4 separate regions of the Homo sapiens genome follow, and all the other regions are linked to region 1. The links come from fine-mapping of genetic effects on gene expression. A gene starts in region 1. Each other region holds a variant in brackets. All regions are shown on one strand. Distances are between the middles of the regions.

Region 1 (2,686 bases):
GGGAGGCTGGCTTGAGCTCAGGAGTTCGAGACCAGCCTGGGCAATATAGCAAGACCTCGACTCTACTAAAAAAAATAAAATAAATAAAAAATTGGCTGGGCGTGGTGGTGCTTGCCTGTCGTCCCAGCTACTCCAGAGGCTGAGGCAGAAGGATCTCTTGAGCTCGGGAGTTCGAGGCTGCAGTGAGCAGTGATTGCACCACTGCACTCCAGCCTAGGCGACAGAGAGAGAGACCCTGTGTCCAAAAAAAAAAAAAAAAAAAAACCCCAAAATTATAGCTAATATCGAATGCTTTTTAAAGCAGGCACTATGCTAGAGAGATTACATGAATGATGTCATTTAATCTTCAGGCCAAGTTTGCTCTACTTTACCCCTCCCGGCCCCAACACTCCACAGAAAGTAGTGAGCTACATGGTAGAGGGCCTGCTTTTATGTGGTGGTTATACATAACTCTGAGATTACGGCAAGAAAGTCAAATCGAACTGAGACAGGGACTAAAGTTAGTGTTTACAGTATCAATACTATAAAGAAAATAATTACATTCCCAAGGAAAAGTACAAAGAAAGGAGGTAGTGTCATTTGGAAGAACCTTAAATATGCAGTGTCACTGAAGTCAGGGGAAGAAAAGAATTTCACGGAGAAGGGCGTGTTCAATGCGTGGAAGGCTGCAGAGTAGATAATGAAGATTCAAAAAGGCAAATCTGAGAGGAGTTGCAGTACAGTCGTGTGGTTTCTAGACTACACGGCGTTTCGAAAGTGGGTAAAGGCAGACATCACGCGTCTTCAAGAAGTTCAGAAGAAAGAGGAAGAGTGTTGTCATAGTGGGTAAGGTCAAGTATCTTTGATTGCAAAACAACAGTCGCCAGAAGAGAAGGGGCTAAAAGTTGGAACGAGGAAGAAGGCTCGGAGAAAGGTGTCAGACAAAGCGGGATTAGCAAGAAGCTGTTAGGGCTGGTCCTACCGGGATGAGAGAAAGGCGCAGAGGCCAGCCGAGTGGAAAGAGCAGCGGTGACGAACCGGGTTCCACTCAGACGTCCGACACTTCTCGCCAAGGGGCCAGCGCGGACAGCAGCGCCTCCCGGGGACCTCTGAGAAGCCCTGTTTCTGCGCGGCTCCGCCCGACCTCCAAGGCCGACCTCGGAGGCTCAGAGACCCAGGCCCCGTTGGCACTCACCCCACTGCCACGCGGCGCCAGCGCCGGACTGGCCGCACGATAAGCGCGTCCCAGGCTGCCGCCAACCGGCCCTCGGGGGAGACGGGTCCCGGGGGCGCAGGCGCGGGCCCCAGACACAGCGAGCTCCAGAGAGAGCGCAGCGCCGAGCCTGGCAGCTCTGGCTCCAGCAGGAAGACGCAGCCCACGGCCAGCGCCAGGAAGCCCGCGTACGCGGAGCCGCGCCACAGCGCCATGGGGACCCAGGCGCCGCACCTGCGCGAACCAACTCCTTTCCTAGCCCGCGCCTCTTCCGGGCTCGGCGCGCGCCGATGTCGACACAAGCGCTACGTCACAAGGGTGCGCCACGGGGCCCCCCAAGGGGCGGGGCGACGGGCGGCGCCAGGACGGAGCGAGGGGGGACCCCACGCCTCAGTCCCAGGCCTGGCACTGCGGTGTTGCCGCCCCGGAGGAGGTGGGACAACGGCGGTTGTGCCAGTCCGGGCGCTGCACCCCCTTCCCGGAACTCTAATCGTATCCCCAAATAGAGGGATGGGAACACATTTGCTTTCGCAGTAAAACGAAACGGACAGATTGTGAAGAAGCGGACAAACCTCGCGTTAATATTCGAACCAGTGGGTGTCCCCATTGGCACGGATCACACCCCCATCTTTTAATCCCTCCCTCCGCCCGTGTCCCCTCATTTGCTAGACTTGTCCTCTTCCAGGCCTAGTGCTCGGCGCTTCTGAGAGGAATAGGCTCACAGAATAGCGGCGCTGCCGAGACCCCTGGGGTACGCGAGGCAGGGGGATTCCGCCCCTTTGGAAGGTGGCCGAGACCCTCAGCCACTAAAGGACTTCGTCGAGACAGGAGAGCCCGCAGAGATCGTTCTCTTCTGGATAACCAGATTATTCCACAATCAAACTTTAACCCTTTTGGGGGCGCTGTTCCCTTTAACAAACTCTGGAAAATGTACACAATCTTGTGCACAACACGAGAGTTATGGACCTGGGTTGAGAAACGCTGCTTTCTTTTGTTCCCCCTTGGTGACATCACTTAAACCCAGCCCTCTCTTCGCTGATACTTTTCTGTGCATGAGGCTAGGTTGAGAGACAGTGAAGCTAGGCTGGGTACCAGCTCATTCTCATCAGCCACAATGCCCGGCCTAGTCTTGTTCCCTGGTTTGTTTCCACTTTTCCAATTCTCTCGGCTCCTGACCTTGGCTTTGTGTCCAGTTTTCCACTGTGACCCTGACCTTTGGACTTGGCAGCGAAACTTTATTTCCCTAACTTTGATCTTGGGCATTAGTCTTCATTCTCCTCAGCCCCACCTCATCAGAACTTCCCCATCCTGGTCATCTACCTTCCCGCAGTTCATCCTACCCAGCCTACCTGACCATGCCATCCCTTTCGACAAAGATATTCACACAGGAACAGATTTGGGCTACCTTGGAAAAGAAGCCAAAGAGCCAGTCAGATCTTTATGAAGCCATGAAAGCCATCTTCCCTAGAGTTGCCTGTCACTTCTCTCTCCTTA
Region 2 (2,686 bases), 53 kb before region 1:
AGAACTCAAAAAAGCCAGAGCATTTCTGTTCTGGGTGAGGTTGGCCAGACTGTTTTTTTTTTTTTTTTTTTGGAGACGGAGTTTCACTCTTTTTGCCTAGGCTAGAGTGCAATGGCGTGATCTCGGCTCACTGCAACCTCTGCCTCCTGGGTTCAAGCGATTCTCCTGCCTCAGCCTCCCAAGTAGCTGGGATTACAGGCATGTGCCACCATGCCTGGGTAATTTTGTATTTTTAGTAGAGATGGGGTTTCTCCATGTTGGTCAGGCTGGTCTCGAACTCCTGACCTCAGGTGATCCACCCACCTTAGCCTCCCAAAGTGCTGGGATTATAGGCATTAGCCACCACGCCTGGTCTGGCCAGACTCTTTTAACTGCCGTCTCCTTGCTGATGTAAATTGTCTTGTTTGCTTTTTTTCCAAGCTCGGCATTTACCAGAAGGCATTTGAACATCTTGGCAATGCACTGACTTATGACCCTACCAACTACAAGGTATTACAGGCTGTGAAGGCTCTGGCCTTCATATAGACGGTCCCACTGCTCCTAGAGGTGATCTGACCCTGGAAAGCAAAGGAATAGCTTCTTAAATTTGGATACCTGAGAAATAGAAAAAATATAAATAAAAGGTGGCTCTTCTTATTTGAAAATAGTGTCAAGTATGCTCTACTTATCTTCTAAAAGTGCACATTTGTTATAATAGACGTGTAACCCCTGCAGAAGGCAGATCATAGTGCTAGTAAAGCTTATGTGTTACTTAGGAAATTAGCAATGCCTCCACAACTATTGTCAAAAATAAATCTGCGGCCCGGCGCGGTGGCTCACGCCTGTAATCCCAGCACTTTGGGAGGCTGAGGTGGGCAGATCACGAGGTCAGGAGATCGAGACCATCCTGGCTAACACAGTGAAACCCCGTCTCTACTAAAAATACAAAAAAATTAGCCGGGCGTGGTGGCGGGCGCCTGTAGTCCCAGCTCCTCGGGAGGCTGAGGCAGGAGAATGGCGTGAACCCGGGAGGCAGAGCTTGCAGTGAGCTGAGATCACGCGCCACTGCACTCCAGCCTGGGTGACAGAGCGAGACTCTGTCTCAAAAAAAAAAAAAATAAAAAATAAAAAAAATAAATCTGCTGGGCATGGTGGCTTATGCCTGTAATCCCAGCACTTTGGAATGCTGAGGCAGGAGGATCACTTGAGGCCAGGAGTTCAAGACCAGGCTGGGCCACATAGTGAGACCCCCATTTCTACAAAAAAAATTATCCAGGCATGGTGGCACACACCTGTAGTCCTAGCCACTCGGAAGGTGGAAGAGGGAAGATCACTTGAGCCCAGGAGTTTGAGTCTACAGTGGGCTATGATGGCACCACT[A/G]TACTCCAGCCTGGGTGACAGAGACCCTGTCTCTAAAAAGAAACAATAATTATGTTGAAATGACTTCTAGAGTCCTAATGATTTGATACTACAACTTTTTTTCTAGATGTGACTTTGGGAATGAGAAGGAATAGCATCAAATGGATGAACATCATTGAGGAGATGCAGCAAGACAAGCTGTTTATTAAAGGATACAAACTGAATTCTGATTTAGGAAGTAACATTAGACTGTCAGCTCCCACCTTGATACCTTTCCTTAGAGAAATGAAAGGGCTGGGCTGATGAAGCCTAAAGCTGACTCGCCCTCTGTTCTACGGTAGAAAGAAATTTACCTTAAGTAGCCACGTACAGGTGTATTTCAGGTATCTAGAACACTTGGTATACCAAATAGGGGCTGCAGAGAACAGATTAAAGGAAGTTTTTACTTAAAGGGCTCTGGTATTCATTCTGAAATACTGACTTTCCTGGCTAGAAGTAGGAAACAGATGGGTAAAGCAAGTAACATTTTATCTTTTTTTTTTTTTTTTTTTTTTTTTTTTTTTGTGCTGTGCCAGAGAGCCACAGTGTAGAGTGCAAGGACATTCCTCAGGAACATTTGTCCCAATAGGTTGGATATATTTATGTCCCTGGAAGAAATTTTCCAGTCCCATCTATGCTGATGGGCCTGCTGAGTATAGACTCAGGAAAGCTGCCCCACTGCTACAGCCTTTTGGGAATGACTGAATGACTTTCTCTGTGCCATGTTTTCAGGCCATCTTGGCAGCAGGCAGCATGATGCAGACCCACGGGGACTTTGATGTTGCCCTCACCAAATACAGAGTTGTGGCTTGTGCTGTTCCAGAAAGTCCTCCACTCTGGAATAACATTGGAATGTGTTTCTTTGGCAAGAAGAAATATGTGGCGGTGAGTGTCCCCTCATGTTCTTTGTTTGTATTTCTACATGTGGTTATTGGGTCTGTTTAGCTTGCCCTTCTCATTGAGTGCCCCTTCTCTCTCATAGGCCATCAGCTGCCTGAAACGAGCCAACTACTTGGCACCCTTTGATTGGAAGATTCTGTATAATTTGGGCCTTGTCCATTTGACCATGCAGCAGTATGCATCAGCTTTTCATTTTCTCAGTGCGGCCATCAACTTCCAGCCAAAGATGGGGGAGCTCTACATGCTCTTGGCAGGTAAGAAACATTTATGTGGAAAACTCTCTCTGCCATCTGTAATGAGGGAAAAATGGATTAGAATCATAGAAGATCAGTGGCTGTCTCATAGGAGCCATTCCCTTAGAGATCCTGTAGGAATCTGGATTACTGTCCTGGAGCTTGAAGAAATAGAA
Region 3 (2,686 bases), 57 kb before region 1:
AAAAAAAACTGTTTTTGTGTTGACAGGGTCTTGCTGTGTTGCCCAGGCTGGTCTTAAACTTCTGGGCTCAAGCGATCCTCCTGCCTCAGCCTTCCAAAGTGCTGGAATTACAGGTGTGAGCCACTGCACCTGGCCTTGGTAATAAGTTTTAAATGACCCAGAAATTGCACACATCGTTCCTGCTTACATTCCATGGTTCAAAACTACATGATAGTTACAAGGGAAGTGGGCAGACATGCACTCAAGAAGAAGGAAATAACAGATTTAAGAGTTGGCCGACAGTCTGCCATTTTGGTATCATATGTTAATAACAGATCTTCTGTTTTCAGAGATATTATTAGGGACAGAAATCTCCTGATTCAGTAAAAAACAAAACAAAACAAAACAAAACATTTGGCCTTATTAGCATGAGACCAGTATCTTTTTTCCCCCTTCCCCATTTTCCCTTCCCCTTCCCCGTTTTCCCCTTCCCTTTCCCCGTTTTCCCTTCCCCCTTTTCTCTTCCCCCTTTCCCTTTCCCCCTTCCCCCTTCCCCCTTCCTCTTCCCCTTCCTCCTTCCCTCTTCCCCCATCCCCCTTCCCCCATCCCCCTTTCCCCATCCCCCTTTCCCCATCCCCCTTTCCCCATCCCCCTTTCCCCATCCCCCTTTCCCCATCCCCCTTTCCCCATCCCCCTTTCCCCATCCCCCTTCCCCCTTTCCCCTTCCCCCTTTCCCCTTCCTCCTTTCCCTTCCCCCTTTCCCCTTTTCCCATCTCCCTTCCCCTTTCCCCTCCCTCTCTCCCTTCCTTCCTTTTTCTCTCTTTTCTTTCCATCCTTTCCCTCCCTCCCATTCCCATCTTTCTTTGTTTCTTTCTTTTCTTCCTTTCTTCCTTCCTTTCTTTCCTTCCTTTCATTTATTTCAACAGTCTCGCTCTGTCGCCCAGGGGTGAGTGCAGTGGCGCGATCTCGCCTCACTGCAACCTCTGCCTCCTGGGTTCAAGCGATTCTCATGCCTCAGCCTCCTGAGTAGCTGGGACTGCACGAGCACGCCACCACCCCTGGCTAATGTTTGTATTTTTAGCAGAGACAGGGTTTCACCATGTTGGTCAGGCTGGTCTCGAATTCCTGGCCTCAAGTGATCTGCTTGCCTTGGTCTCCCATAGTGCTGGGATTGCAGGCGTGAACCACTGCGCCCAGCCTTGTGTTGTTACTTTTAAATGGGATAGCTGTAGCAAAATGCCTTGTCTCATTTGTTTGGTCCCTTAATAGAATGTCTGGTCTGTGGTTCAAGGCTTATTATTCCTAATAATTAGATTCTGAACTAAACTTAGATTTCTATTAATTTGTTAATCATCTTTGTCTTCTACCATGGTAGTAAATTTTCTGGTTATATCAGTCACAGCACTGCTTTCTGAATTTTCTTCAACCATATTTTGTGTCTAAAACAGAAAAATCCCTTGGTTTGTTAAGCTACAGAACAGACTTTTGTCATCAAGAGGCTGTATATTTGGGCAAGTAGTAAGGAGCCATGTAACATGTTCAGTGCCTCTGTGGTGCTAGGTAGTAGCCCTGATCCCTGACCCCTGCCTTCTAGAGGTTAGCTCTTTGAGAATAGCATACATAAATCCCAAGGGGAACATTCTTCCAGTAACTGATCAAGGACTTTGGTCACTAAATTTCCTAAGGGAGAAAT[G/A]TGGACAGCTAAAATCTGAAGCCTTACTGAGAAGATAGAGACCATTGTTCATGACCTACAGCTTTGAAGAGAGTAGTCATGTTGTAGTGGGGAAGCCAATATTGCTAGAATTACAGAAGTTACCTGGCTTTGGGGAGGGAAGTGATCAAAGTGGATGTTTATTATGGCAGAAAGTGAAAGGCGGATTCCCAGTTGAATTGAGAAAGCTCTGTTTGGTCAGCTCAGGCCTCCCCTGGCTGGGGCTTTGCATCTTCTGGTTCAGGTCTTCCTATAGGTAACCAGTGCCCTATATCATTCCTTAGAAGCAGAAGACATTGTTCATAGCCCTTTGGTGTTTTACTGTTGAAACTGTCTGATGATCCTATGGTCAGATCATCTCAACTCAGTGTTGCCTTGGTTTTGTGACAAAGACAAATACTAGTGAGGGATTGAGCAGGCAATCCCTGATGTGAGTATTTTACTTACATCAGTGTTTACTCCCAAAGGTCAGTAGCACCTTCTTTCCTAGGATTGGTATGTATCTTCCTTCTTTTGTTTAGTTTGGCTACTTGGTATAGCTCTTTGTTTAAGTGGAGAGAACAGCATTAGGGGCCTTGGGATCCTAAATTACATAGAAAATTATGCTGCCTGGCATTGTGAGCACAATGAGGATAGAAAAAAAATTCCACAAGAGAGGACTGGTGAAACTGTGTGTGTTCTAGGCTGACTTGGTTTATAAAGCATTGTTCTTTAATTTTATCAGTGTGACCAAGACAGTCATGCAAAACATTCTATAGGTTCTTTCTTAGGACTTTTACCCTAAGAAAGGAATCTGAATTCTAAGCCTCATTTTTCTTGCTGAGCAGTTCTCCTTATCACCAGGGTTGAGATGACCTACTTTTGATGGCAATTCCCAAATTGCCTTCAGGTATTTCCACGGGGAGGAAGAGGCTCAGTGGGGTCTGTCAAGTATTGCACGAGGGCATATTACTGTGCATGTGTCTTCGTGTTTCTCATCTACATCTTGTTTCCCTC
Region 4 (2,686 bases), 82 kb before region 1:
TCCGCCTCCTGGGTTCAATCGATTCTTCAGCTTCAGCCTCCTGAGTAGCTGGGACTATAGGTGTGTGCCACCATGCCCGGCTAATTTTTCTATTTTTAGTAGAGACGGGATTTCACCATATTAGCCAGGCTGGTCTTGAATTCCTTACCTCATGATCCGCCCGCCTCAGCCTCCCATAGTGCTGGGATTACAGGCATGAGCCACTGCACCCGGCCTGAACATTTATTTACTGGTTTTTTTTGTGTGTGCATGTGTGTGCAAGTTTTCACTTGAATAAGTGCCTAGGGAGTGGAATTGCTTGGTCATATGTGAACTGTTTGTTTTAACTTTATAATAAACTGCCGAAGTATTTTCCAAAGTGGTTGTACAGTTTTACCCGACCGCCAGCAACGTGTGAGGATTCTGTTTGGCTACATTCTTGCCAACATTTGTTACTATCAGTCTTTTTCATATTAGACTTGCTGGTGGGTATATTGTGTTTTATTGTGATTTTAATTTGCATTACACTAATGACTAGTGATGTTGAACACCTTTTCATATACTTATTGGTCATATCTTTTGTGTAGTGTCTGCTCAAGTTTTTTGCCTATTTTTAAATTTCTTTTTTCCTTATTATTGATTTGTGAGACTTCTTAATATATTCTGAATGTACGTCCTTTGTCTGTTATATATGTGGTAAGTATTTCCCCCCAGCCTGTGTTTTACTACTTTCATTTTATTAAGGTATCTTTTGATGATCAAAAGTTTTAATTTTGATGAAGGCCAATTTACTATTATTTTTCTTTTGTTATTAATGCCTTCTCTGTCTTGTCTAGGAAATCTTGATCCTTACCCCAGACTGAGTTGTGTGTCCTCTCCCTTTTCTGCATTAATATTGCAGAAATTAATTTTTTGGTTTTAGAAAATGTCTAATTTGGCTCAATCAGTAATTTTTGATATCTTTCTATTGAAATATATATACAGAAAAGTACATACATAAATCATAATTGTACTGTGCAGTGAATTTTTACAAAGTAAACATATCCATGTAATCACCATCTAGATTAAGGTATAGAATATTATCAGTGCCCTCCAGGCCGCCTCCTTATTCCCTACCAGTCATTAACCACCC[C/G]TCCCAAAGGTAGTAACTTGTATTTAACTTCTATCTTCTACATCAGTTTTGCCTGCTTTTGAATTTAATGTAAATGGAATCATGCAGTGTGTACTTTTTAATATCTAACTTCGTTGCTCAGAATTATGTTTGTGAGATTCATTTATGTTGTTGCATGTAGTAGTGGTTGGTTGTTTTCTTCCTTGTTATATATATTCCATTGTGGGGCTCTACCTAAGTCTATTCATTTTATACTTGATGAACATTTGGGATATTTTTATTGTGATGTATTATGAATAATGCCACCATGAAGAGTCTTGTACATGTTTTTTGGTACACATACATACTTAGGAGTAGGATTTTCAGGGTCACCAGGAAGGATATATTTAGGCTCAGTGAATACTAGCAAGCAATTTTTAAAATGCGGTCAATATAATCCCCATGTGTAAAATAAAGGTGTACAAACGCACACACACACACTTGCTCATATGCTTATATGTGCATAGAAATTCCTTGAAAATACTCAAGAAATGCTTCACCTCTGGTAAGGGATAGGAATGGAATGGGTCTTTTGTTTAGTATCCTATGTGCCCTTTGAATTTTGTTTTACTGTAAGTATGTATTTTTAAGAAAACCAACTAGTTATTTTTAAAAATCATTTGAAAGTCTTCCTACTTTGATATATGAAAAACACTGGTTTTAAAAAAAATAATAGAAAAGCTTTAAAATCATTATTATTTTTTTGAGACGGAGTCTTGCTCTGTCGCCAGGCTGGAGTGCAGTGGTGCGATTTCCGCTCACCACAACCTTTGCCTCCCGGATTCAAGCAATTCTCCTGCCTCAGCCTCCCAAGTAGCTGGGACTACAGGTGTGTGCCACCAGGCCCAGCTAATTTTTTTTTTTTTTTGTATTTTTAATAGAGATGGGGTTTCACCATGTTGGCCAGGATGGTCTCAATCTCTTGACCTCGTGATCTGCCTGCCTCGGCCTCCCAAAGTGCTGGGATTACAGGCGTGAGCCACTGTGCCTGGCCGCTTTAAAATCATTAATGTTGCGTTGCTCAGTTATGTCTAATTGACAGCCCAAACATTTACATTGTAATATTAGAAAATCCTTTATGATTGGGCAGAAACTTGGTTTAATGTGTCACCTTGGAGACCTGGGTTATAGTCCTGCCTCTTCCATTAACTACTTGTTGAATGTGGACAATTTACTTAACCTTTAGGGCCTTAATTTCCTCCTTTATAATGTGAGAATGTTCTCTGAATTGCATAACTCACTGGCCTTACGTGACTATTCAGTGGAATAATAAGAGAGAAAAACTTTGAGATACATGCACACACACCCTTAAGAAGGATATAATTGTTAAATTTTGCTTTGAGGAAATAAAATAATCTAAGCTATAAAGTAAAACCATAATTAGCTAATCTTTTATATGACTTTTTTCTTCCTCATTTCAAGCTAATGAGAAGCAAACAAACTGGATAGCAGCAATATAATTAAAAAATTATAGGCCAGCTTCTAGCATGTATTCTTGAGTCAATACTGACTCAGCCCAGTCTCTTCCTCTTCCTTCATCATCATTTATGTACCTGA

What was found. PIP is the estimated chance that this variant, and not a neighbour inherited with it, causes the effect.
Region 2: its variant is the best candidate, but not a certain one, in a credible set for the expression of ADPGK in blood mononuclear cells (TOPMed, PIP 0.70).
Region 3: its variant is the best candidate, but not a certain one, in a credible set for the expression of ADPGK in whole blood (TOPMed, PIP 0.56).
Region 4: its variant is the best candidate, but not a certain one, in a credible set for the expression of ADPGK in whole blood (INTERVAL, PIP 0.82).

What each region holds. Positions count from the first base shown.
Region 1 is chr15:72,782,285-72,784,970 of GRCh38, forward strand. ADPGK (ADP dependent glucokinase) reads right to left here and starts at 1,474. Exons shown (of 7, transcript NM_001365225.1): 1 at 1,175-1,474. The coding sequence starts at 1,407. It overlaps ADPGK-AS1 (ADPGK antisense RNA 1), which reads left to right and starts at 551. Exons shown (of 3, transcript NR_040107.1): 1 at 551-2,686. RefSeq lists enhancers at 850-919, 1,680-1,739, 1,790-1,999 and a silencer at 1,170-1,629.
Region 2 is chr15:72,729,196-72,731,881 of GRCh38, forward strand. BBS4 (Bardet-Biedl syndrome 4) reads left to right here. Exons shown (of 16, transcript NM_033028.5): 10 at 421-489; 11 at 2,110-2,262; 12 at 2,360-2,531. Among named protein-coding and RNA genes, the nearest start is that of BBS4, 44 kb to the left of the region's middle. The variant A/G (reference allele first, on the strand shown) is at 1,360.
Region 3 is chr15:72,725,234-72,727,919 of GRCh38, forward strand. All of the region lies in intron 8 of BBS4 (Bardet-Biedl syndrome 4), which reads left to right. Among named protein-coding and RNA genes, the nearest start is that of BBS4, 40 kb to the left of the region's middle. The variant G/A (reference allele first, on the strand shown) is at 1,673.
Region 4 is chr15:72,700,023-72,702,708 of GRCh38, forward strand. All of the region lies in intron 2 of BBS4 (Bardet-Biedl syndrome 4), which reads left to right. Among named protein-coding and RNA genes, the nearest start is that of BBS4, 15 kb to the left of the region's middle. The variant C/G (reference allele first, on the strand shown) is at 1,112.